Regions from separate parts of the Homo sapiens genome. Here region 2 is linked to region 1. The links come from fine-mapping of genetic effects on gene expression. A gene starts in region 1. The other region holds a variant in brackets. All regions are shown on one strand. Distances are from middle to middle.

The links.
Region 2: its variant is fine-mapped to the expression of C9orf72 in blood mononuclear cells (TOPMed, PIP above 0.99). The same link has a PIP of 0.9 or more in monocytes after interferon gamma.

Annotation. Positions count from the first base shown.
Region 1 is chr9:27,568,015-27,580,517 of GRCh38, forward strand. It overlaps C9orf72 (C9orf72-SMCR8 complex subunit), which reads right to left and starts at 5,467. Exons shown (of 11, transcript NM_018325.5): 1 at 5,417-5,467. RefSeq lists enhancers at 4,861-4,950, 5,549-6,076 and a silencer at 5,461-5,540.
Region 2 is chr9:27,594,366-27,606,868 of GRCh38, forward strand. No RefSeq gene overlaps it. Among named protein-coding and RNA genes, the nearest start is that of C9orf72, 27 kb to the left of the region's middle. The variant A/T (reference allele first, on the strand shown) is at 5,244.

The DNA.
Region 1 (12,503 bases):
GCTTTGTTAAGTAATCTTAGAAAAGTAATACAACACCTAACAACAGAAATACTTTAAAGCCGCTAAAAGGTCAAAAAAAAAAAAAAAAAAAAAGACATGGAAATACCACAAGTCTGGAGCCATAACAAAAAATGGGCAAACAGTCCTGTATCCTCAGTGAACTCTCTGGTTATGAGAATACTGAAGCCCGATCCTGATGTTTAAAACGACATTGAAGTATCAAGACAAAGATAAAAATATTTAATATGCTAGCCAAGAAACCAATACAGCATTTCATCACTGCAAAGAGAGTTCTACACTAAATGGCTAGAATTTAAAAGCTTTAGTTATTTAGAACACGTAGAAAACAGAAGGGCTAAATAGGGCCCGTTCAAGCCTTTGAATTTAATGAGAAAACAGACATGAGGAGAAGAACATAAACGCTCACATCCAAGACAGAACCCAGGGCTCTTGGTCCCCTTGCTCAACTTGTACATCTTAATCCACATAAACATACCACTCTAAAAAGGTACATCCTATGTGATATTAATGTAAAACAAATCATTCTTGCAAATACAGTTATGTGCCATGTAACGTTTCAGTCAATGGTAGACTGCATATATGATGGTAGTCCCATTAGATTACAATGGACCTGAAAATATGCTATTGCCTTAGTGACACTGTAACCATCATAAGGTCTTAGTACTATTTTGCAAGTTATTTAAAGTATAGCACATACAATTATTACAGTGTACAACACTTGATAATAAACTACTACATTGCTGGTTTATGTATTCACTATACTATGCCTTTTATTGTTATTTTAGAGTGCACTCCTTCTACTTTTTTTTTTTTTAAGTTAAATGTAAAACAGCCTCAGGCAAGTCCTTCAGGAGGTATTCAACAGAAAGCACTGTTATCATAGGTGACAGCTACATGTGTGTTATTGCCCCTAAAAACCTTCCAGTGGGACAAGATGTGGAGGTGGAAGGCAGTGAGGTGGAAGGGAGTGATACTGATGATCCTAATCCTGTCTATGCCTAGGTGAAAGTGTGTGTGTTTTAGTTTTTAACAAAAACGACTAACAAGTAAAAAAAAAAATTTAAAATAGAAAATAGAAAAAAGCTTCTAGAATAAGGATACAAAGAAAAAATATTTTTGTATAGCTATACAATGTATTTGTGTTTCAAGCTAAGTATTTTAAAAGTTAAAAAATTAAAAAGTTTACAAAGTTAAAAAGTTATAATTTTTTATTGAAGAAAAACTGTTAAGATAAATTTGGTGTAGCTTCAGCGTACTGTGTTTATAGTCTACAGTGGTGTACAGTGTTCTAGGCCTTCACATTAATTCACCACTCACTCACTGACTCACCCAGAGCAACTTCTAGTCCTGCAAGCTCCATTCGTGGTAAGTGGCCTACACAGGTATACCATTATCTTTTATACCATACTTTTACTGTACCTTTTCTCTGTTTGCATATATTTAGATAAATATTTACCACTGTGTTACAACTGTCTATAGTATTCAGTACAGTAACAGTTGTACAGGTTTGTGGCCTAGGAGCAACAGACTATACCATACGGCCTAGGTACATAAAGGCTATACTATCTAGGTTTGTGTAAGTACACTCTATGATGTTTGCATAATGACAAAATCGCCTAATGATGCATTCCTAAGCAATGTGTGATTGTACTATAATTGAAGACTTGTTATCTAAGACTGAAAGTAAAAAGAATTGCAATTTCACCTAAGCAAGTCTAAAACTGTGAAGTCTATTTATAATAATAGCAATACAAAGCAGCTAATAGGCAAACTATGATATACCTATCTTTGCCATATGATTGCTTTGGGAGCTAACATTTGATCTGTAAATGTATGACAAAGTAAACAATTTTACTTAAAGAATTTCATCCACATCTTGTCAAGAGAGTTCAGTCTGATGGAAAGCACTGACTTCTATTTACAGAGCATTAGATGAGTGCTTTTATCATATTATGAGTAGGCATACAGAGCCTGGCAAAACAGTTAACTCTAAGTATGTACAGAAATGGTTGAACACAACGACAGTTTTAACACGTGTATTTGTAATTTCAAAAATTCATTTAGGTAATATTTACTTTTAAATATGTTGTATCAATTTAATAGTCTTAAGAGACAGCACTAGATATAAGCCGTACAGCTTCTTTAAAATATCCACTGTTTTTAATACAATGTAAGCAGTCAGTTTACAATGATCAAATATAGGAATGTAATCTGAATTGAAATGGTAATGACACTACTGCTGTCATAACTAACAACAGCAAACTGGAGGCCAACATAATGAATTAAGTTAACATACAACCATAAAATTATATTGCAAACATATTTTTCTTTCATTCTTTTAGGTTAAAAAGGTGGATAATCATAAAGGCAATATTACAACTCTAATATTTCATCATTAAACTGAAAATAAAAGTATTTCCTAAAACAGAACTGAACCCTGGAGCAAAATCTGATTGAATTATAGGGAAACTTTTACCACGTTGTGAAAATTGAACTATTATACTGCTAGTTACACTCTCACTCCTAACAGAATAAGAAAAAAAAAATGGGCCGGGCATGGTGGGTCACACCTGTTATCCCAGCTCTTTGGTAGGCCGAGGCAGGTGGATCACCTGAGGTCAGGAGCTCAAGACCAGCCTGGCCAACATGGTGAAACCCCACCTCTACTAAAAATACAAAAAATTAGCCGGGTGTGGTGGTGGACACCTGTAATCCCAGCTACTCGGGAGGCTGAGGCAGGAGAATCTCTTGAACCCGGAGGTGGCAGAGGTTGCAATGAGCTGAGATGGCGCCACTGCACTCCAGCCTGGGCGACAGAGAGAGACTCTGCCTCAAGAAAAAAACAAACAAACAAACAAACAAAAAGAATAAGAAAGAAAATGAAGGACAAAGATCATACTGAATTGCTTAGTTTTAAATCCTACCAAAAGAAATAGCCTGGGAAATGAAATGTCACAGAGAAGTATAATCAGGAGAGCTGTACAATTATTTTACTAATACTTGAAGTCATCGTCTTTGGTGAGAAAAATCCATACATGCAAATGCAGCTGAAAAAAATCAGCTCAAAACCAATAGTTGTTTATGTACCTATCTTACGTACATGTAGTGCTGTCTACTCCAGAGAGTTACCAAACATTAGCCAGTCTTTTGAGGGAAGCCAAGATTCAAATTGAGTGAGACGGTGGCTTGCTCACAGGGTTCATGAGAGGTTTCCCAATACACTTTCTGGAAATAATCCCATACATGCAGACATGATTACATTAATTAACATCTGCTAAAACTGTTAGTAGAGTGCTAAGTTTGAGGTTTTGCTTTTTCTTTAAACGTCTGTTAAAAAATCAACCATCTCTTCCCTGATTGGTATTTAGAAAGGTGGTTGGTCCACTGCTATTGTAGTGAAAATTCTACAATCATAAAGCCCTCACTTCTTGTTTTTTAGAGACAGGGTCTCGTTTTGTCATCCAGGCTGGAATGCACTGGCAGGATCATAGCTCTCGGTAACTTCAAACTCTTGGGCTCAAATGACCCTCCTGCCTCAGCCTCCCAAGTAGCTAGGACTACAGGTGCACATCACCACGCCCGGCTAAGTTTTTAATTTTTTGTAGAGACAGGGTCTACGTTGCCCAGGTTGAGCTTGAACTCCTGGCTTCAAGTGATCCTCTTGCCTCCGCCTCCCAAAGCTCTGGCATTACAGGTGTAAGCCACCTTCTCCAACCTGGCTCTCAATACTTGTAACCATGCTGTTTATTTTCTCCCAGCCCAAAGAGAAGCAGGATCCTAAACCGTCCACTTTCCACAACAGGAGCTGCCCAGGACCACTTCAAGGACAGTGAACTGTTTACAGTACCAGAAAGTTCACAACACTTTCTCAATCTTCAACATCAGGGAAGACTGGAAGGTGAAGTTCATATCACTATCTGGCCATTTCTCACAGTTCCAAGTTTCTCAGACAATAGGTAGGCTAACCTAGTCCTCCTGGGAACTATCTAATTAACGTAGAATAGAACCCGAGGGCAGACTTGAAAAACAGAAGTCCTCCTTGGTTTACTTTGTTTCTCTGAAAGCAAATTGTGGAGTGCCAACATAGCCAAACAAAATATTTTATCAACTTCATAAGGTGCTTGTAATTTTTTCCTGGAGCAGGTAAATGCTGGCTTAGTGAACAATCTGGAATGTGGTAATTACTCTCGTTCTTGTTTCAGATGTACTATCAGCATGTAGCAGTTTCCAACTGATTCAGGGTTTTCCTAAAGTGGCAGGCCTTGGCAGAGGTGGTGACAACAATGCCCGTGTCAAATGACACCGTATTTCAAGTATTCTGACTCCAGGTTATTAATATCCCCTATATGATAGTCTTGTTTCTGTGATATTCACAGATTATGTTAAAAGTTTCCCAAAGTCTGAGAAAAATCATATCTTAACAGTATCTTTTTTTTTTTTGATCCTTTGTACAAAAGTAGAAGTAATGCCAGACAGATTACGTACCCTTGTTGTGAACAACTGGTGCATGGCAACTGTTTGAATAGAAATTTACCAACTGCCACAACCAGGCAACTACTCTCCCAGAGCCTAACAATCTCGATTGCATCTGAAAGGGCCACCCCTCCTGGGAAAGTGCAGGACCTCCCTCCTGTTTCTGAATACAAAGCCTGGTGGTGTTCAACGCGGCCAGATAGACCCAATGAGCACACGGACATGTAATCTGTGCACTTCTTTAGACAACTGATTACCATCAGTCAAGTGATGCCCAAGTCACAATAGTCACTTCCTTTAAGCAAGTCTGTGTCATCTCGGAGCTGTGAAGCAACCAGGTCATGTCCCACAGAATGGGGAGCACACCGACTTGCATTGCTGCCCTCATATGCAAGTCATCACCACTCTCTAGAAGCTTGGGCTGAAATTGTGCAGGCGTCTCCACACCCCCATCTCATCCCGCATGATCTCCTCGCCGGCAGGGACCGTCTCGGGTTCCTAGCGAACCCCGACTTGGTCCGCAGAAGCCGCGCGCCGCCCACCCTCCGGCCTTCCCCCAGGCGAGGCCTCTCAGTACCCGAGGCTCCCTTTTCTCGAGCCCGCAGCGGCAGCGCTCCCAGCGGGTCCCCGGGAAGGAGACAGCTCGGGTACTGAGGGCGGGAAAGCAAGGAAGAGGCCAGATCCCCATCCCTTGTCCCTGCGCCGCCGCCGCCGCCGCCGCCGCCGGGAAGCCCGGGGCCCGGATGCAGGCAATTCCACCAGTCGCTAGAGGCGAAAGCCCGACACCCAGCTTCGGTCAGAGAAATGAGAGGGAAAGTAAAAATGCGTCGAGCTCTGAGGAGAGCCCCCGCTTCTACCCGCGCCTCTTCCCGGCAGCCGAACCCCAAACAGCCACCCGCCAGGATGCCGCCTCCTCACTCACCCACTCGCCACCGCCTGCGCCTCCGCCGCCGCGGGCGCAGGCACCGCAACCGCAGCCCCGCCCCGGGCCCGCCCCCGGGCCCGCCCCGACCACGCCCCGGCCCCGGCCCCGGCCCCTAGCGCGCGACTCCTGAGTTCCAGAGCTTGCTACAGGCTGCGGTTGTTTCCCTCCTTGTTTTCTTCTGGTTAATCTTTATCAGGTCTTTTCTTGTTCACCCTCAGCGAGTACTGTGAGAGCAAGTAGTGGGGAGAGAGGGTGGGAAAAACAAAAACACACACCTCCTAAACCCACACCTGCTCTTGCTAGACCCCGCCCCCAAAAGAGAAGCAACCGGGCAGCAGGGACGGCTGACACACCAAGCGTCATCTTTTACGTGGGCGGAACTTGTCGCTGTTTGACGCACCTCTCTTTCCTAGCGGGACACCGTAGGTTACGTCTGTCTGTTTTCTATGTGCGATGACGTTTTCTCACGAGGCTAGCGAAATGGGGCGGGGCAACTTGTCCTGTTCTTTTATCTTAAGACCCGCTCTGGAGGAGCGTTGGCGCAATAGCGTGTGCGAACCTTAATAGGGGAGGCTGCTGGATCTGGAGAAAGTGAAGACGATTTCGTGGTTTTGAATGGTTTTGTTTGTGCTTGGTAGGCAGTGGGCGCTCAACACATAATTGGTGGATGAAATTTTGTTTTTACCGTAAGACACTGTTAAGTGCATTCAAAACTCCACTGCAAACCCTGGTAGGGGACAGCTCCGGCACTGCGGGCGGGAATCCCACGGTCCCCTGCAAAGTCATCGCAATTTTGCCTTTACATGTAAGAATTCTCTCAAGCATGATTTTCACACTGGGGAATGTCATTTTTGCTAGTTGCAATATGTGGATGAGTTGTTTTTTTTTAACTTTTGAAAAACGTACCATTCTGTTTGATGTGTAAAAAACACAAAGATTTTTGAAACCTTGCGTCTTTTGGTCTGCAGGTGTATAGATTCCACTTACTACAGATGAGTAGCATTTACACCACTCAGATGTGTAAAAAAACAAAGGTTTTTTAAACTGTGTGCCTTTTGATCTGCAAGTGTGAGATGGCACTTACTACAGTGAGTAGCATTTAATCTTTTTCATCACTAAAAATCACACAGAACGTTTTAATCATTCACCGAGGAAGAAAGGGAGGAATAAATACACAAAATGGCTCTCAACGTCTACACCTTCTGCAGAAACAGACCCTTTTCCTACTGTTCTATGCTTTGTGAAAGTTGATCATACAAATTGGGTCATTCTTTTTATACCCAACTAAAATAGTGGGGGTAGGGGGTAGAAAAGCACTTAGGACAAATGACACTGCTCCCACAGTGTAATTCTCTCCAAGTCCAGCTGCTGCAACTGCCCGTTGTGACCTGAGACCAGTTTTATCTAATAGTTGCTAAAATGACCTGCTGCAGCTCTAATTTTATCTACCACCATCACTCACCAGTTGAAACTCACCAGCTCCTCAGATCCTTAATAGTGCCAATGAATTTTCTCAAAGAGCACTATGTAACATTTCTCTTTTTTAACAAAACCTCCCCCTTTTCTTTGTTGTGTGGATATACCGAAGACCATCTGATCTACATGTATGCCCTAATTGCAATTCTTTCTTCCCAAATAAATCACTTAATTTAGAGATTCATCTCTGTATTTTTATTTTGACTGACAGCTTATAACAAGTAGCTAGCATTTACCAAGTTTCTACACTGAGTTGTACTTCACTTATACGTGGAATTAAAAAACAACTGAATTTATAGAAACAGAGTAGACCCTTGGTTGGGGGGCTTGGGGGGAAAGAAAATTGTAGGGTAGGGTACAAAGTTGCAGTTACGTCTAATACATCTAGAGATTTAATGTACAACATGAGGACTAGCGTTAATAATTGTGTTAGTCCATTCTTACACTGCTATAAAGAAATAACTGAAACTGGGTAATTTATAAAGAAAAGTTTAATGGCTCACAGTTCTGCAGGCTGTACAAGAAGCATGGCTGGATCAGCTTCTGGGCAGGCCATAGGGAACTTAAAATCATGATGGAAGGCATAGGGAGACCCCAGACTTCACATGGCAGGAACTGGGGGAAGAGAGAAATGGGAGGTGCTACATACGTTTAAACAACTAGATCTTGTCAGAACTCACTATATAGTACCAAGAGGGGACTGTACAAAACCATTAGAAGCCACCCCATAATCCACTCACCTCCCACCAGGCCCAACCTCCAACACTGGGGATTACAGTTGAACATGAGATTTGGGTGGGGACAGAGATCCAAACCATGTTATTCCAACTCTGGCCCCTCCCAAATCTAATGTCCTTCTCATATTGCAAAATACTGTCGTGCCTTACCAACAGTTCCCCAAAGTCTTAACTCGATCCAGCATTCATTCAAAAGTCCAAAGTCCCAAGTCTCACCTGAGACGAAGCTAGTCCCTTCTACCTATGAACCTGTAAAATCAAAAACAAGGTAATTGCTTCAAAGATACAATGGGGGTATAGGCATTGGGCAGATACTGCCATTCCGAAAGGGAGAAATCTGCCAAAAGAAAGAGGCTATAGGGCCCCATTGCAAGTCTGAAAGCCAGCCGGGCAGTCATTAAATGTTAAAGCTCTGAAATAATCTCCTTTGACTCACACCCAGGGAACACTGATGCAATGAGTGGGCTCCCAAAACCTTGGGCAGAACCACCCCTGTGGTTTTCCAGGGTTCATCTCCCACAGCTGCTCTCATGGGCTAGCATTGAGTGCTTGCAGCTTTTCCAGGCTGCAGGGTGCAAGTTGTTGGTGGATCTACCATTCTGGGGTCTGGAGGACGGTGGCTGTCTTGTCATAGCTCTGCTAGGCAGTGCCCCAGGGGACTCTCTGTGGGGGCTGCAACCCCACATTTCTTCTCCTTGCTTCCCTAGTAGATGTTCTCCATGAGGATTCCACCCCAGTAACAGGCTTCTGTCTGGACATCCAGGCTTTTTCATACATCCTCTAAAATCTAGGCAGAGCTTCTTAAGCCTCAACTCTTGCATTATGTGCGCCCGCCGGCTTCACAGCTTATGGAAGCCACCAAGGCTTATGCCTGGCACCCTGTGAAGCAGCAGCCTGAACTGTATTCTTACTGGTGAAAGTTATCTGAGTTACCAGCTGCAAATCCATGTGGGTCTGCAGCAACCTCAATTCTTGCCTCCTCAGAAGAAAGAATTTGACCAAGAGGCATAAGGCAGAAAAAGAGACTGCGACAAGTTTCAGAGCAGGAGTAAAAGTTTATTAAAAAGCTTTAGAACAGGAATGAAAGGAAAGTACATTTGGAAGAGGCCCAAGTGGGCACCTTGGAGGTCAAGTGCCCTGTTTGACCTTGAACCTAGGATCTTATACACTGGCCTACTTCTGACATCTTGTGCCCCTTTCCCTTGGTCCTTCCCTAAGGGTGAGCTTGCCGCATGCATGGTGCCCTGCTTGCACTTGGAAGGTGAGCGTGTGCAGTGTGTTTACTGGAGTTGTATACATGCTTACCTGAGGCTTTCTTCCCTTTTCCGGTGGAATGCCCCCAAAGGTCATACTTCACCATTTTGCCTCTTAATGTGCATGTTAAGCCCACTCTCTCAGTTCCTGAGATCTTATTGGAAGCGCCCAGTTACCAATTTCAGGTGTTTCTATCTATTGAGAAGTTGCCTCTCCCTGGTGCTGGCTGCAACCAATTACTATTTTAGAGAGGCAGTATGACAACTGCCTGACCATCATCTGATGGTTGCCTGACATTCCTGGTGGGTGGTGGGGACTTCTCTCTTACCCCACTCATGCCTGATTAGCTACCTACTGTAACAGTACCTGGGCCCCTTTGAGCAGCTGGGATTCAGGGAGCAGAGTCCCAAGGCTGTAAGAGGGAGCAGGGGCCCTAGGCCTGGCCCAGGAAATGATTCAGTCCTCCTAGGCCTCGGGGCCTGTGATGAGAGGGACCACCATGAAAGCCTAAAATGCCTATTAGGAACACTTTTACACTGTTGGTGGGACTGTAAACTAGTTCAACCATTGTGGAAGTCAGTGTGGCGATTCCTCAGGGATCTAGAACTAGAAATACCATTTGACCCAGCCATCCCATCACTGGGTATATACCCAAAGGACTATAAATCCTGCTGCTATAAAGACACATGCACACTATGTTTATTGTGGCACTATTCACAATAGCAAAGACTTGGAACCAACCCAAATGTCCAACAGTGATAGACTGGATTAAGAAAATGTGGCACATATACACCATGGAATACTATGCAGCCATAAAAAATGATGAGTTCATGTCCTTTGTAGGGACATGGATGAAATTGGAAATCGTCATTCTCAGTAAACTATTGCAAGGTCAAAAAACCAAACACCACATGTTCTCACTCATAGGTGGGAATTGAACAATGAGAACACATGGACACAGGAAGGGGAACATCACACTCTGGGGACTGTTGTGGGGTGGGGGAGGGGGGAGGGATAGCATTAGGAGATATACCTAATGCTAAATGACGAGTTAATGGGTGCAGCACACCAGCATGGCACATGTATACATATGCAACTAACCTGCACATTGTGCACATGTACCCTAAAACTTAAAGTATAATAATAATAAAATAAAAATAAAATAAAATAAAATGCCTGTTAGTCCTATGAGTCTTTCTCCCCATTGTTTTGGTTATCAGCCCTTGCCTTCCTTTTAGTTATGCAAATTTATGCAGCCTGCTTGACTTCCTCTCCTGAGAACGAGCTTTTCTTTACTACCACATGGCCAGGCTGCAAAATTTACAAACTTTTATGCTCTGCTTCCCTTTTAAGTGTAAGTTCCAATTTCAGGTCATTTCTGTGCTCATGCCTATGAGCATAGGCTATTAGAAGCAGCTAGGTTACTTCTTGAACACTCTGCTGCTTAGAAATTTCTTCTGCCAGATACCCTAAATCATCATTCTTAAGTCTAAGATTTCACAGATCCCTAGAACAGAGGAACAATGCAGCTAAGCTCTTTGCTAAAGCATAGCAAACCTGACCTTTACTCATTCCCAATAAATTTCTCATTTCCATCTGAGACCTCCTCAGCCTGGACTTCACTGTCTATATCACTATCAGTATTTTGGTTACAACCACTCAACAAGTTCCTAGCGAGTTCCAAACTTTCTCTCATCTTTCTGTCTTCTTCTGAGCCCTCTAAAATGTTTCAACTTCTGCCTGTTAGCCGGTTCCAAAGTCACTTCTACATTTTCAGGTATCTTTATAGCAATGCCCTTCTTCTCAGTAACAATTTTCTGTATTAGTCCATTCTTGCATTGCTATAAAGAAATACTTGAGACTGGGTAATTTACAAAGAAAAGAGGTTTAATTGACTCATGGTTCTGCAGGCTGTATAGGAAGCATGGCAGCATCAGCTTCTGGGGATGCCTCAGAGAACTTACAATCATGGCGGAAGGCAAAGAGGGAGCTGGCACTTCACATAGCGGGAGCAGGAGGAACAGAGAGAGGGAAAGTGGGGGAGGTGTTACACACTTTTAAACAACCAGATCTCGTGAGAACTTACTCACTATACAGTACCAAGAAAGGATGGTGCTGAACCATTAGAAGCCACCCCTGTGATCCAATCACCTCCAACCAGGCTCCATCTCCAACGTTGGGGATTGCAACTGAACATGAGATTTGGATGGGGATATGGATCAAACCATATCAATATTGTATACTGGAAATTTGGTAAGAGAATAGATTTTAGATAATCTTATCACATACATAAAAGGTAGCTATGAAATGATGGATATGTTAATTTGCTTGACTGTAGTAATCACTATACACGTGTATATCAAAACATTATGTTGCCCATTTTAAATACATACAATTAAAAAAAATTACACTTAATCCTCCTGACATCTCTAGGATGTAGATATTGTCATCCCTAGGATGTAGATATGTTTTACAGAGGAGATAACTGGACCTCTGAGAGCTTGAATTATTTACCCAAGGCTACATACTTTGATAAATTAGGCCAGTTTCATGCAATTCTAGAGCTCACTGAGTCCAGAGGACAACAACCTGGTACCAAGTTGATGATAACTCATCTCAGATAACTCCTATGGTGGTTAATACTAGCATCCCCAGTTTAGAATAAGACTGGAACTTGGATTAAGTGCCTGGGAGGGGAATACAACTCCAAAAGCAGGTTTTCCTACTTCAAAATTTGGCCTACAGACAAATAATTTTCCTTTTCTCGAATAGGTTTTTCTGTTTTTTTGTGATATCAACCCTGAAACAACTATGTTTCCTAAGAGAGAAATAATCAACACCAAAGCCTAAATTCTACATGATCATGAGAAATAAAATATATGGTGAAAATGGCTCTGTATGCATGATGCTTTCTAGCCAGTGACTGTGTATCTTCCCCCCACCTAATCCAACAGGTATTTAGTCATTGTGTAGCAGTATAGTAGCTTGTATGTCTTTCATTAGATTGGAGCAAAAAAATCAGGAGAGAAACAATAATTATAACATAGTACAGTGGTCCAAAATACTTTATTGCCTGAAAGGGTAAAAGAGGAGGACAAATATTCTAGCATATATGCAGTCTTCTGGGAACCAAAGAGAAAATGATATTTAAGTATCTAGTAATGTGATTCATATTAGCAGCATGAAAGATGGCTTGGGAGGGCTTTAACCCTTATCCTTTTCATACTCTGTTAACTGGTTTATTAACCACATCAAGTAACTGTAGCATCTAAATGAAAATAGGTTTTTCTACAGAAATATGTCTTCAAGTGAGAAGCCTAGTCCTCCATTTTCAACCAGAATGACACCCTTAAAAGACCTTATATAGAAATTTTTGAACTCTTCACATATAATTAATGCAGTCATACAAAAAGACTCTACAACTAGGGAAGCAGAAAAGCATATGGTTAAGAGAGTGGGCTCTGGAATCAGAGCTGGTGTGAGTATTGTCTTTGCCTTTGATTAGTTATGACATTTTGGGCAGTACTGTATTTCTCTGTGCCTCAGTTTCCCCAGCTACAAAATGGCATGCAGAATAATTTCTCCTAGGATCATTGTGAGGGTCATGTGTGATCAAG
Region 2 (12,503 bases), 26 kb after region 1:
TGCAACAAAACTAAAAATAGGCAAGTGGGACCTAATTAAAGAGTTTCTGTACAGCAAAAGAAATTACCAACAGAGTAAACAGGCTACAGAATGGGAGAAAATATTTGCAAACTATGCATCTGACAAAGATCTAATTTCCAGAATATACAAAGAACTTAAATCAGCAAGCAAAAAACAAATATTTTAATTGAAAATGTGTAAAGGACATGAACAGACGCTTATCAAAAGAAGACATACAAACGGCCAATAAACATATGAAAAAAATGCTCAACATTCACTAATCATTAGAGAAATGGAAATCCAAACCACAGTGAGATACCATTTCACAGTCATCAAAAGGCTATTAAAAAGCCAAAACATAACAGATGCTGGTGAAAAGATTGTGGAGAAAAGAGAACGCTTATACACTGCTAGTGGAAATGTAAATTAGTTCAGCTACTGTGGAAAGCAGTTTGGAGATTTCTCAGAGAACTTAAACCAAAACTATTATTCAACCCAGCAATTCTACTGGGTAATCCAAATATAAAATTTTTGTTACCAAAAAGATACATGCACTTGTATGTTCATTGCAGCCCTATTCACAACAGCAATAGAATCAACCTAGGTGCCCATCAACAGTGGGATTGTATAAAGAAACCGTGGTACATATACACCATGAAATACTACATGTCCATAAAAATAATGAAATCATGTTCTTTGTAGGCCATTATCCTAAACAAATTAACACGAGAACAAAAAACGAAATACTGCATATTCTCAATTATAAGTGGGAGCTAAATATTGAATACACATTGACATAAACGTAGCAACGATAAACACTCAGGACGACTAGATGGGAGAGGGAAGCACGGGCTAAAAATTCACCTATTACGTACTATGTTTACCACCTGGGTGATGGGACCATCATCAGCATTATGCAATATACCCATGTAACAACCCCGCACATTTACCCTCTGAATCCAAAACAAAAAGAACAACAACAAAAATGCCTCTTCTACTATAATGTAAAATCTATGAAGGGAAGAATTTAAAAAACTTAAAATATTTAACATTATACAAGTCATATGTGTTATATATATTTAAATAGTCATATTCAACTTAGTATGTTTATTCATTATTGCCTGCTTCATCCCTATTGAATGTAGTCTTGACAGGAATTTCTATCCTTTTTGTCTGTGTAGTTCATCAACGTATCCTCAGTGCCCATATGCGGAGTGAACAATTCAGAGTAATCAAGGACAACTCCAGCATTCCTAGTCTGAAAACTGGAAGGTTGAATTCGCTGTTCATAGGCGACAGGAGGAGTGAAGAGAGAAAGAGGGAGGAGTGAAGAGAGAAAGGGAGAGGAGCGAAGAGAGAGAGAGGAGAGAAGAGCTGCAGCCCTTTGGCAGCCCAGACCTGGGAGCTCCCGAAGCTAGGGCTGTGATTTGCCTTTTGGAGCCCTGAGGTTCCTGGAGTCTCCAAGTTTCCAGGCACCAATGCGTTCCGTTGCTGCGCTGCTTGGTGCAGCCACAGCCTTGCAGTGAGCCAGCACCCGTGCCAGCACCTGAAGCTGCCCATCCCGCTGTAGCAGCCATTGAGCCTGACTGTGTGCCAGACCCCACGCTCACTTCCTCACACATCCCTCACCGCTTCGCTCCAGTCTCTTTGGAGGCATGGGATCCACGCCAGTAGTGTCAGCTGAGCGCAGCCTGCCAGGATGAGTGGGCCCAGTGGACCCGAGCAAAACTCATGCAAAGGTGCCACCGCCACAGAGGTTTCTGGACAGAAAAGCAACACCCCCAAGGATCCCATAACAGTATCAGTATTTTTCAGTCAGGAGGAAATTGCCTACTTCTTGTTGAGCAGTGTTGCTAAGGGTGTATTTAGGAGTTGTATCAGTTTCTAGGGCTGCTGTAATAAATTTACTACGAACTGTGGCTTCAAATAACAGCAATGTATCCTTTCACAGTTTTGCGGGCCAGAGCCCAAAAGCAAGGTGTTAGTAGGGCTGTGCTCCTTTAAAGGCTTTAGGGAAGAGTCCTTCCTTGCCTCTTCCAGCTTCTGGTGGCTGCTGGAAGTCCTTGGTTTCCTTGATTGGTGGCCACATCACTCCAATCTCTGCTGCTCCAAATCTCACATCACCTTCTCCTCTTCTGTTATGAGGATACTTGTCATTAAATGTAGGGCCCACCTATGTAATCCAGGATGATCTAATTTCAATATCTTTGACTTAATTACATGTGCAAAAACCCCTTTTCACAGCTTCCAGGGATTTGGACATGAACATTTTTAAGTGGGGGGCCATTATTTGACCCACTACAAGAGTTCAAAGCCTTCTCGGGAAATACCATCCCTTACCCACTGACATGAGTCTGTTCATGCTGGGAGTGGTAGAAGATACCAGGACCTGAATGCCTTTGTTCCCATCTTTAACAGACACCACCCAAATTCAGTAATGGAGCAAGTGAATTTAGCACGAGTACATTTAATCTTCACACATATGTTGCTGGGTGCTAGAATTTAAAACATTGTTTTCAGCGCCCCCATTCTGACTGGTTCCCAGGGATGTAAGTCTCCTCAACACCCTGGCCAAAGCCTTACCTATTCTCTGAACCCCGCTCTGTTTTGTGCTATGGGTGGGAGGAGGGCATTACTTATTGACCTCCCTGTCCTCAATAACCTGGGTAACCGGAGACAGAGGAATCGAGCACCTCTATCCCTAAACCATCATGTTGGAAATTCCTTACTGAAGCAAGTCATTCACAGTTGTGTCTTCCAAACAGTGCAATTTCATTTGTGTGTTAGGACAGCAACTCTACTAGAAACTACTTCACATCAATAGAAACATCATTACAAAACAAGATCAATATTTCTGATTTTCATGCTTAGTGTTATTTTTTGAGAATGACCAGAAATTTTCATTTATATAGAGATATACTCTATTCTGATAATCAGAAAGAACAGATAATGACTTTGGAGAACATCAAGATTAAGGTTCCTAAGGTAAACATTTACTCCCTGGTCAATATAATATTAAAACCACTAGTACGTTTTACCTGAAAGAAAAATGAATCCATTTTTTTGGTCAACGAGTAATATAGGAAGTCCTATATCTGTTGCATTTATTTTTAAACTTCTTTTTAAGTATAAGAATACAGTACATATATGGAAAAGTATGCAGTTCATAGGTGCACAGCCTAGTCAATTATCACAAAGTAAACACATCTGTTTAATCACCATCCAGGTCAAGGAAAATACCATTGCCCACCTCACTGTCTTCAGGAAAGACCCCTGAGCCCCTTCTCTATCACTACCTTGTCCTTCTCACCAAAAGTAGCCGCTATCTTGATTGCTAAAAGGATTAATTTTGCCTGCTTTAGAATTTTATACTACATATATTCTTTAAGCTTTTAAAAGTCAAAATATCTGGAAACCACTCCTTTCATGATATTTCATCTCAGAGGTAGAATAATTATTTCTTTGTAGGTAACTCTCTGTCGGAAAGATGAATAGCTTACTCCATAAATCATTAGCATAAAAACTTATTTATAATTTACATGAGAAGTCAGTATGAAGAGTAACATTATGACCTTGTGGTCAACACAATCACACAAATGGAATTATTAAAAATAAAGATAAATGAACCATGGAATTTTCAATTCGTAATTTACCTGGTTCTCTCTGTTCCTGTCCTTCTCTCTTGATAGTAAGGTGACTTTAGCCTTTGGGACACAGTAACATTCTCTTGATTATTAAAAGTTTTTTTCTCTCTACCTGCTTGGTCTCTTGTTCATATGCAATTTTTCTCAACAAAAAGTGTTATTGTTTAGTAGTTAAAAAAAGAAATGACTTCAAAGTCAACAATATGTAGAAAGGCTTATATTTGGTGGCATATTTCAAAAATTATGAGTGACCTCAATTCTTATTAACACATGTAAGCATTATATTTACTCAATTCCAAGGAGAAATCAGGCGTAAGATGCAATGACAAAAGAAAAGGAAAGGCTGCATTGTATATAAAATCAGGTGTAGGTACAATCGAGTTTCACAAATGTTGAAATGTGAAGGGAAAAGTGCATCTTAGGATTTAGGAATAGTGCCATTTGCTGATGATATCAGCAGCGATATGGTCCAGAGGTGGCTTGATGTTATTATAATTTCCTCTAAAAATACAAAAAATAAAAATAAAAAGTTCAGGAAGTCATTTAGAAATTTACATTGATGTCCCTCAGCTGTCCCTAGAAGTAGGAACGAGTTACCCTTTAGACATAATGGGGACATTTGTGCGTGCTGTCATTTTAGGAGTTCTACAAAGCCCCACTTTCCCTCAAATGTTTATTGTCTACCATTCCTTTCTACTATCTTAAAAATCCCATCAAAACAAAACAAATAAAAGATAACTATGTGAGATGATGAATATGTTAATTTGCTTCACTACAGTTACCTTTTCACTATCTATATCCATCTTATAACATCACGTTGTATACCTTAAAAATACGCAGTAAAATTTATTTTTTAAAAAAGAATCCCATCTTTTTTTTTTTTTTTTTTTTTTTTTTTTGGATGGGGTCTCACTTTGTCACCCAGGCTGGAGTGCAGTGGAGCGATCTCCGCTCACTGCAAACTCCACCTCCTGGGTTCAAGCGAAGAATCCCATCTTTTGAATTAGTCCTTTGAACACTATTTGTACAAGATGTCTGGAAAAGGCAACTGGCTCCTGAATTTCTCCTCTAGCTTTCTCTTACTTCATTTGCATGGCTTAATTGTATATGTTAGCTAATTGTCATTATTAAAAGCACAGATCCTGACCTTAAGGGAATGAAGTGCTGGACAGATACCTCTTAATTTCCGCAACTGCAATCTCAGTTTACTGAGAATGGAAAACTCCCTCCAAGGCCTGAGAATTCTTGGTTAACACGGAGGGCATTTCCCAAGAGTGTAGAAGAGGAAGCCCAACAGGCTGAGTAAGCTATTTCTTCACCTTGTATATTTAAGTTAGAGTACTACCTCTTTTGTGTGAACTTTAGGGAGTGGTCAGTAAATGCCACTTATTTCAAATTGTTTCACTTTGGCTTGCTGGAAAGTAGATGTATTTTAGAGCAAGGTCATTTGGTATATTTGTAAAAATATACCAGACTTTCTTGATTATTTTCTTTAAATTAAGCTTACTTTTTGAAATATTATTTATTTTAAAGTAAGATTTTATATAAGTTCTCTAAATAGAATACCACTATCACTTCCCATAAATAGAAGATAAACCC[A/T]TTTCCCGTTTTGGGAAATCGCTTAGAAGAATGAATTTGGAATTTGGAATCAGAAGACCGGAGTAGTCATCTCAGCTCTGCTACTTCTGTGTTTTCTGGTTCTGGGAAAATCACTTGACTTCTCTGAGTCCCAGTCTCTTCATAAAAAAAAAAAAAAAAAAAAAAAAGGGACGGGATAACAATGTCTTCTTTCTTTCTCAAAATGACATTAACTAAATCAAGCTGCAAAGGGAAATATGTGGTTCTTTTTATTTGTAAGCTTAAAGTCCAAGCAGTTATGACAAATGGGTTTCACCTGAAGTGCAAATGCCCATTTATTCCTAGTGGTTCCTGGACCCCTTTATTGAGAAGGGTTGTGATGACCTGCCCCAAGCAAGGGGGGAAGAAGGCTGCTACTGCATAGTTCACGCTACTTAACTCCTGCCTCCTCTTTACCGAGCCCTCTTAGCTCACCAGAATCTGCATCTCAGAAGCCACCTCCCATTCAGCATGAACTTCCTTTTTATAAGAGCCCCCAAAAGTCACCTCAGGTAAATCACACTCATGAAATCTCTTTTCAGCCTAAAACTGTCTCCTAAAATGAAGCCCTCCCAGGCCCTTCTAATTCTGTCACCACTTTCTCACTCCTCCAAAATAAACTGCTTTTCAGTCCAAGGAATTCTTTAGAGAGAGAAGAAGAAACAAGGATCTGCCCGTGTAATTCTGTTGTTCTATCACTTTCTTTGCTTCATTATGTGTCACAGAGGTTTAGCAAGTACTCTCCAGAGGAGGCTGGGGTGGAGGAAAAATGTGTGAGGCCTGTGGCCTAGTTACTGTTGAAGTCTTCCTAGCAGCTTGCTTAATGCTAATTTCCTAGGCTTTGCAAATAGATCCTGCAGTGGAAACTGCTACCAATAGTGACGTAGTTGAAAAACCATGGGCCATAAAAAACTATTTATGACACTTCCCCCTTTTTCCAGCTCACACTCTGGAATGAACCAGTAAACAAATAATTAACACACAAGCAAAATTATTCTTCTAGGGCTTAAGGCTCTGTCCTAGTAGGAAAAGAATACTGTAGAAGGAAACTTGACAGAGAATACTTCGGAGAACTTAAGTGATGTTTTGATGCCCACAGATTCTGAAAGCTGACATCAACATTTCTAATATTTGTCCATTACTGTTTAATATGATAGGTTAAGTGTTGCTTCAGGGAGCTTGGAATTGTTCACTTCCAAGAAGTGAGGAGGATGCTTATTATTGCTCTTATGACTTCTCTTTAGAATTTGCATTGCTTTTACCATCCACAAACTGCTCCTTGGTAATTTTTATTACTAACAAACCCATAACCTGATTGGTTTCTCTTGAAATAGAGGGTATTGTGAAGTCACTCAGGATACAGATATAGTGCTGATGGGATCAATTAAAATGAATTGTAGTCCAGGAAAAGGTGCTTTGTGAAGCACTACGAGTGACAAAGATGAGTTTAGAAATAATCACTTACTTTATGACCACATTTCATAGTCTTGCTCACCCAGATATTTGTGACAATCATATTCTGGACCTACATAAAGGGTGAGCTACAGGAAGACAAACTTGCAAACATTACGATTTGAAAATAATTGATGTTTACTAACAAGCACATCATCATTTCAAAGCACTTTCAAGAAAAAGCATCCTCTTTCCTAGACAACTAAAGAGGGCTGTTAATTCAGATGGAATCATCTGAAAGCTTTTTCTTATCACCAACTTACTTATTTTCTTTTAATCCCCTCCCCAATATAAATCATAGCACCTCTGGGTGATAGTATTTGAAAATGACAAAAAGAACCCAGATGTTGACTAAAGGCCAAGGTTAATTGGATATGTGTGAGACTGTGCTGTAACTTCTTATTGAATTGGGTGGCTGAGCTGTATAGTTCTTGTGGCATTATTTCAGGATCTGAATTTAGTGATTACATAAGAAACTTCTAATGCGCTAAAGCGTTTAATAACCCATGTCTAAACTTCCCTTCCATAACTTCAGTTTTCGTCCAGAATCTCCGTTACTCAGATCTTTTCAACGGCTTCTTTTCTGGCTGCTGAGGAACCCAGAAACTTCTGACTGGCTTTGAAGGGTTACTTCCCTTGCATTTTTTCTCTCCTTTCTTATCCTTCTTTCTCAGGCTGCTCGCTGTAATATCCCTCAAACTGGATCTTCTCCTCCCTCTGTTCCTTCTCCCCTCACCTTCATTTTATCAACCAATTCCCTATGTTTGACTTTTCTTTTTCTCTCTCTGCCTCTCCAAGTCATCAAGACCCATTCAAGGTCCATTTCTTCCAGGGATCCGGATTAGTCCATTCTCTACCAAGCTTTCCTTCCTCTAAAATACCATTTTTAAAGCCATGTTATCCAGTAGAAATAAAATGCAAACCACACAAGTAAGTTTGTTATACTGTAGAAACAGATCAAATGAATTTTGACAATATAGTTTATTTAATCTATCATTTCTACCTGTAATAAACTTAAGATTATTAATGAGATATTTCCATTTTTTTTGAAGTCTTAGAAATCTGGATTATATTTTATACTTAAAGCACATGTCAGTTTGGACAAGCCACATTGCAAGTGTCCAGTGTGGCTAGAGCTTACTACATTGAACGGTCCGGGTTCAGAGCCTGTGCCACATTCTCTAGCTCTCAATCATGTACTTCCTTATTTCATAGCTTTCTACCAGACCAAATTGCAAACAACTCCGTAGAGTTGGCGGCTCCATTTTACACTTCCTCTGTCTTCACATTTTATTCCTGTGTGTGTAGTAAGCTATTAGTAATTGCCTATTGATGGATTGGTAATATTAATTTTATCTGTGACCTCTTAAACACAGCATACTTACTCCTACTACAGTTTCCTCAGGCTTGAAATTTCCCTCCTCTTCCCCATATTTATATTATGATTCAATAACCAAATCACCTCTGTTTTGTTAGATCTGAATCTCTGTGGGTATGTTGGATGAGATTATAAGAAATAGATGTGCATTATTTGCAGTTCTATTGCACTAGAGAGCAGCATTTTCACAGAATACTCATCGTTCAGACAATTCAGGCAAAATAGGATTTATAGCTGAAATCAATGGGATAATTGCCTCCATTGTTCTTTTTTGCTTTCCTAACAGAGACCTGGCCAACTCCTCGTAAGAGTCTCCTGGTCACAGAATCCAACCATGAAGCAGAGGCCCTTCAATTTGATTACAATGGCAAAGACACAGTTTTATAAGCTGAAACTAAATCACTGGGATAGGAATAGCTTATAAAATTGCAGGGAAGGAAGGTCGTGAAGAAGAAAAGGAAACCCTGGAGAGTACAAGGACAGATAGGGGACCTGAAGTAGAGGACAAGATGAGGAGATTACTAAATTCTGTCAGGGGTGCTAAAATGGGGGGAGCGTGCGAAACATACTATAACTGGGAACCTCAGTTTTAAAAATATAGTTTAACCACCCACTTTCCTTTCATCTCTTCATTCCTTTCCTTTCCAGACACTCCCCTCTGGCAATGCCTGCTTATTTAATTATGTTCTTGCTTGAGAAATTCCAGAGGCCAATCTTGAAACAAACCATGCATGGAGCCCTGAGTGCAGAATCCTCCTGCTTAGCGAGGAGTCACTGACAGTCCACCACCACTGGGCTGAATTCAAAATAATACCAACTAGACCTCCAGATGGGTGACTATCTGAGATAGCCATTGGAACAAGACACACAGACCCCGCCCCCTGCACCCCTCCTGCATGCCTCCCATACCAAGTTTTCCTTTGAACACTCTATGGTAAATTTTAAAATTTAAGATGGTTCTGTGACTATTGTTCACCATCTTCTTGGTTTGCTGCTTCTCCGATTAAAATCGCTTTTCCTCCCACCAACCTTCCTCTCTTATGTCTAGCTTTAGAGCAGCAAGCAGCTGAACCTGGGTTCAGTTACAATACAAACCTTACCTATTCCACAGTTTTATAAACAAAATGCTGAGGTGTACTATTTCAAGCCCTGTTATCATTTACTTCAAGGGAAACTTCCCCAAAACAGAATGATGGAATTGTAATTCTAGAACTCTGCCAATAAACAATAACATTCCTTGATTTTTCTCATCATATAAATTGTCAAAGTTACAAATGTTATCTCCATACACCTAATGTTTTAAGACATCTTACAGTCTTTATCGAGAATCTGTCAATTGGTTCTTATTAAATAAATAATTCATTTATTTAATTTTAAAGTCTTGTTTCTGTTTCTTATCAGTAACATCAATCTTAGCTCCCTGTTAACTTTCTTCTCATATAATAACAAATATATCTGCTATTGCTTAATAATGGAATAGCTTAACTTGGGTTAATTTTACATTTTAAACTTTTGGTGCCTTCACATGCTAGTGGAATTTTGACAGAAGAATCTTAAGATCACATCCAATTTAATAAAAACAAAGGCATAAATGAGGCCCCACAGTGGCTTCTGATGAAGGGCTTGAGAATTTACTGTGGCCTAGCTGTGAAAATTCTTTTAAATTTCTGCTGCTGCTATTTTTTTCATTCAGGACCTATGCATGTTGCCCATGCACTGGCCAATTTTTTAGTCAAAAACAGAGGCCTCAACATGTTCTTGCTGACTACTGAGAGGCTGGGGAGATCTCAGTCTCAATACGTATTTGTCACTTGTTAGCTGACGCCTGGCATTCTAAAACAGAAGCATCCCTCCTTTCCCTCACACATATTGTCAATGGAAATGGAAATGTTTACAGATGGAAGATTTTGCTTCTTAGTAATTTATGCCCATGTTTGGCAAAGTGTATACAGTTTGCAGACTGGGCCAATCCATAATGCTTATTTTTTTCTATCTTATGTTTGCTTTAATTTTATTTATTGAGATTTAATTTTAAATTTCTTACAGTTAATAATAAAAAAATTGGAATTTGTATTTTGAATGTCTGTGATTTTAAAATTTCATTCTCTAGAAGTTAATTTTTATTGCATTTTACAAAAGTACTGGCCTACAATGGGTCTGCTGTCACAGATAGTTCGAGAAATACTAATTTTATTCCTTGCTGTATGGAGTAGGCAAGAGATACCCCCAACCTCCAACCTTAGAATGGATTTTGATAGGAGAAAGGAAACACAGAGCCCCAGAAGAAATAAAATAGGGGGAATAATGGTTTCAGTGAAAAACATTGCTGCCCTTATTAATTTGCTCGAGGCTAGTCCCTGTGCCTGTTCACAAACCTATCTTTCTACAAGCTTTAATTGAATACATTCTATGTTTAAGGCATTGTCTTTGTTGTCGAAAGATATAGCCTTTATTTTCTTCTTGTCCAGTGGTTCTCAGATTTGCCTGCTGTATATCAGAATAACTTGGGAAGCCTTGTTAAAGACTGTAGATTCCAGGGTTCCATTTGAAAACCCACTGAATAAATATCTATGTGAATGGCATCTTCAAAGTTGTATTTTCAAAAGGTTTTGTGTGATTTTGATGTCTGGCTTGGTTTGGATAGCACTGCTTTAGCCCTTGGTCACCTTTACCTTGAAATGAGGTAACGTACAATTAGCAATGATTGGAATATAAAAAAGGTAATAAACTCAATAATCATTTATTAAATACTCTACTTTTCCACATGATGGATACAAAGAAGTTGTAGTAGTGAGGATAATTAATGCTGGATACTATAAGCACAATACTCTCACCTTAATGGCACCATGTAATAGATCTTTATATCTTGCTCACACAGGGTCCTGTGCATATTTTCCTGTGCGTATTTCCAGGCTGTTTCCCTGGTGAACTCTTCTCAAAACAGTAAATCAGAAATCCAGGCTCTTTCAGTTTGGAACCCCACCATCCTTATTACATGGCCTGTAGTTTGTCCATGAAAGAGACGAGAGAAGAAGATCATATCTGAGGGATTTTTGAAGACCAGGCCTATACGTGGCGTGCATACCTTCTGCTCACATTGCCTGTCTAGAAGTAGTCACGGCACCTCAATTAGATGAAAGGGGACAAAGAAATGACCTCTTCCCGAGTGACTGGGAAGGAAAAGAAGTGGTTTGGTGAATACATAGTGTTTTCTCTGCCACAGATATGTAAAATGTAATGTCTGTTAATCTTTTAAGCAGCCTCATTTTCCCCAAAGTAGTGGTAATAAGACCACTGAAGAGACACACTTTAAGCAAGTACAAGTTTATTACGGTAGATTCTATGAAGAGATTTGCAAAGGGTGTTTGTTCTGCTCCCTCTTTGCCATTTTAAACATTATATGGTGATGGAGACCACTTGATTTTGTCTTATACATTATATCATCAGTACCTCTAAGAATGGGTGTATATTGGCCATCCCCTACGAAGTCCCCAAATACTACTGTTGCCATTTTACATTCCAGACATTTTGAAGGCAAGTTATCTTCTGGTCTACCTCGTACTATCTTTGATAGACAAAAATTCCTTAATACACAAAAGGAGAAGCAGTATTGTTAGAGAATTGTTACAGGTTTCTAACTCTCTAAAATCTGACTAAATCTTGTCTAAAATAGTATTCTCAAATCTTAACTCATGAATTTTGCAGTCTCTTCGGGAGATGAATCATCCACTTTTGAAATATTGAGTGTAATATTGTGTATGATAAAATACTAGTAGCAAATGTAGGGAAATTATACGTAGTAACTGTTAAGAGTTTAGGATCACAGGATAGTATAGAGAAGATAGAAGTCTGCTGGCTTGAAGAATCTTTAAAGGTTTTATTTACTTTCATGATACCTGATGACAGTGCAGGGGCAAGCTAGAATTTTTCTTAAGCCTGAACAAAAGTAACTTATGCAGAGCTTCTCCAGATGTTATCATACATTGTCTTCCCAGACTTCTCAAAATTCTATCCTTTCTCCTTACCATTACAAAGTATGGTGGAAGAGGCTAGGGATTCTTGTCTTTATGTTATACTCCATGATCTACAATACTGCCAGTACATTCATTAGAATTTGAATATCTTCCACTTTTTTAGTTTCCAGGATGCTCTGTATTTTAAGAATAACATTGACCCTTAAGGATCCCAAGAACCAAAAAACATGAGGAAAGGAGAGGGGCAGGACCAGAGTGCTTTGTCTTAGAGCATGGTGCCCTGGAATTCGGTGTAAATATTAGACTTTTGAAAGCTTCCTTAACATTAATTTTCCTCAGACTTAGATAACATAAATTCTCAGTAATGCTCCATGATTTTTATTCTTAATGGTTCCTGGGAGTTGTCATTTACTTTTGGACCCCAAATTGGGATCCTCA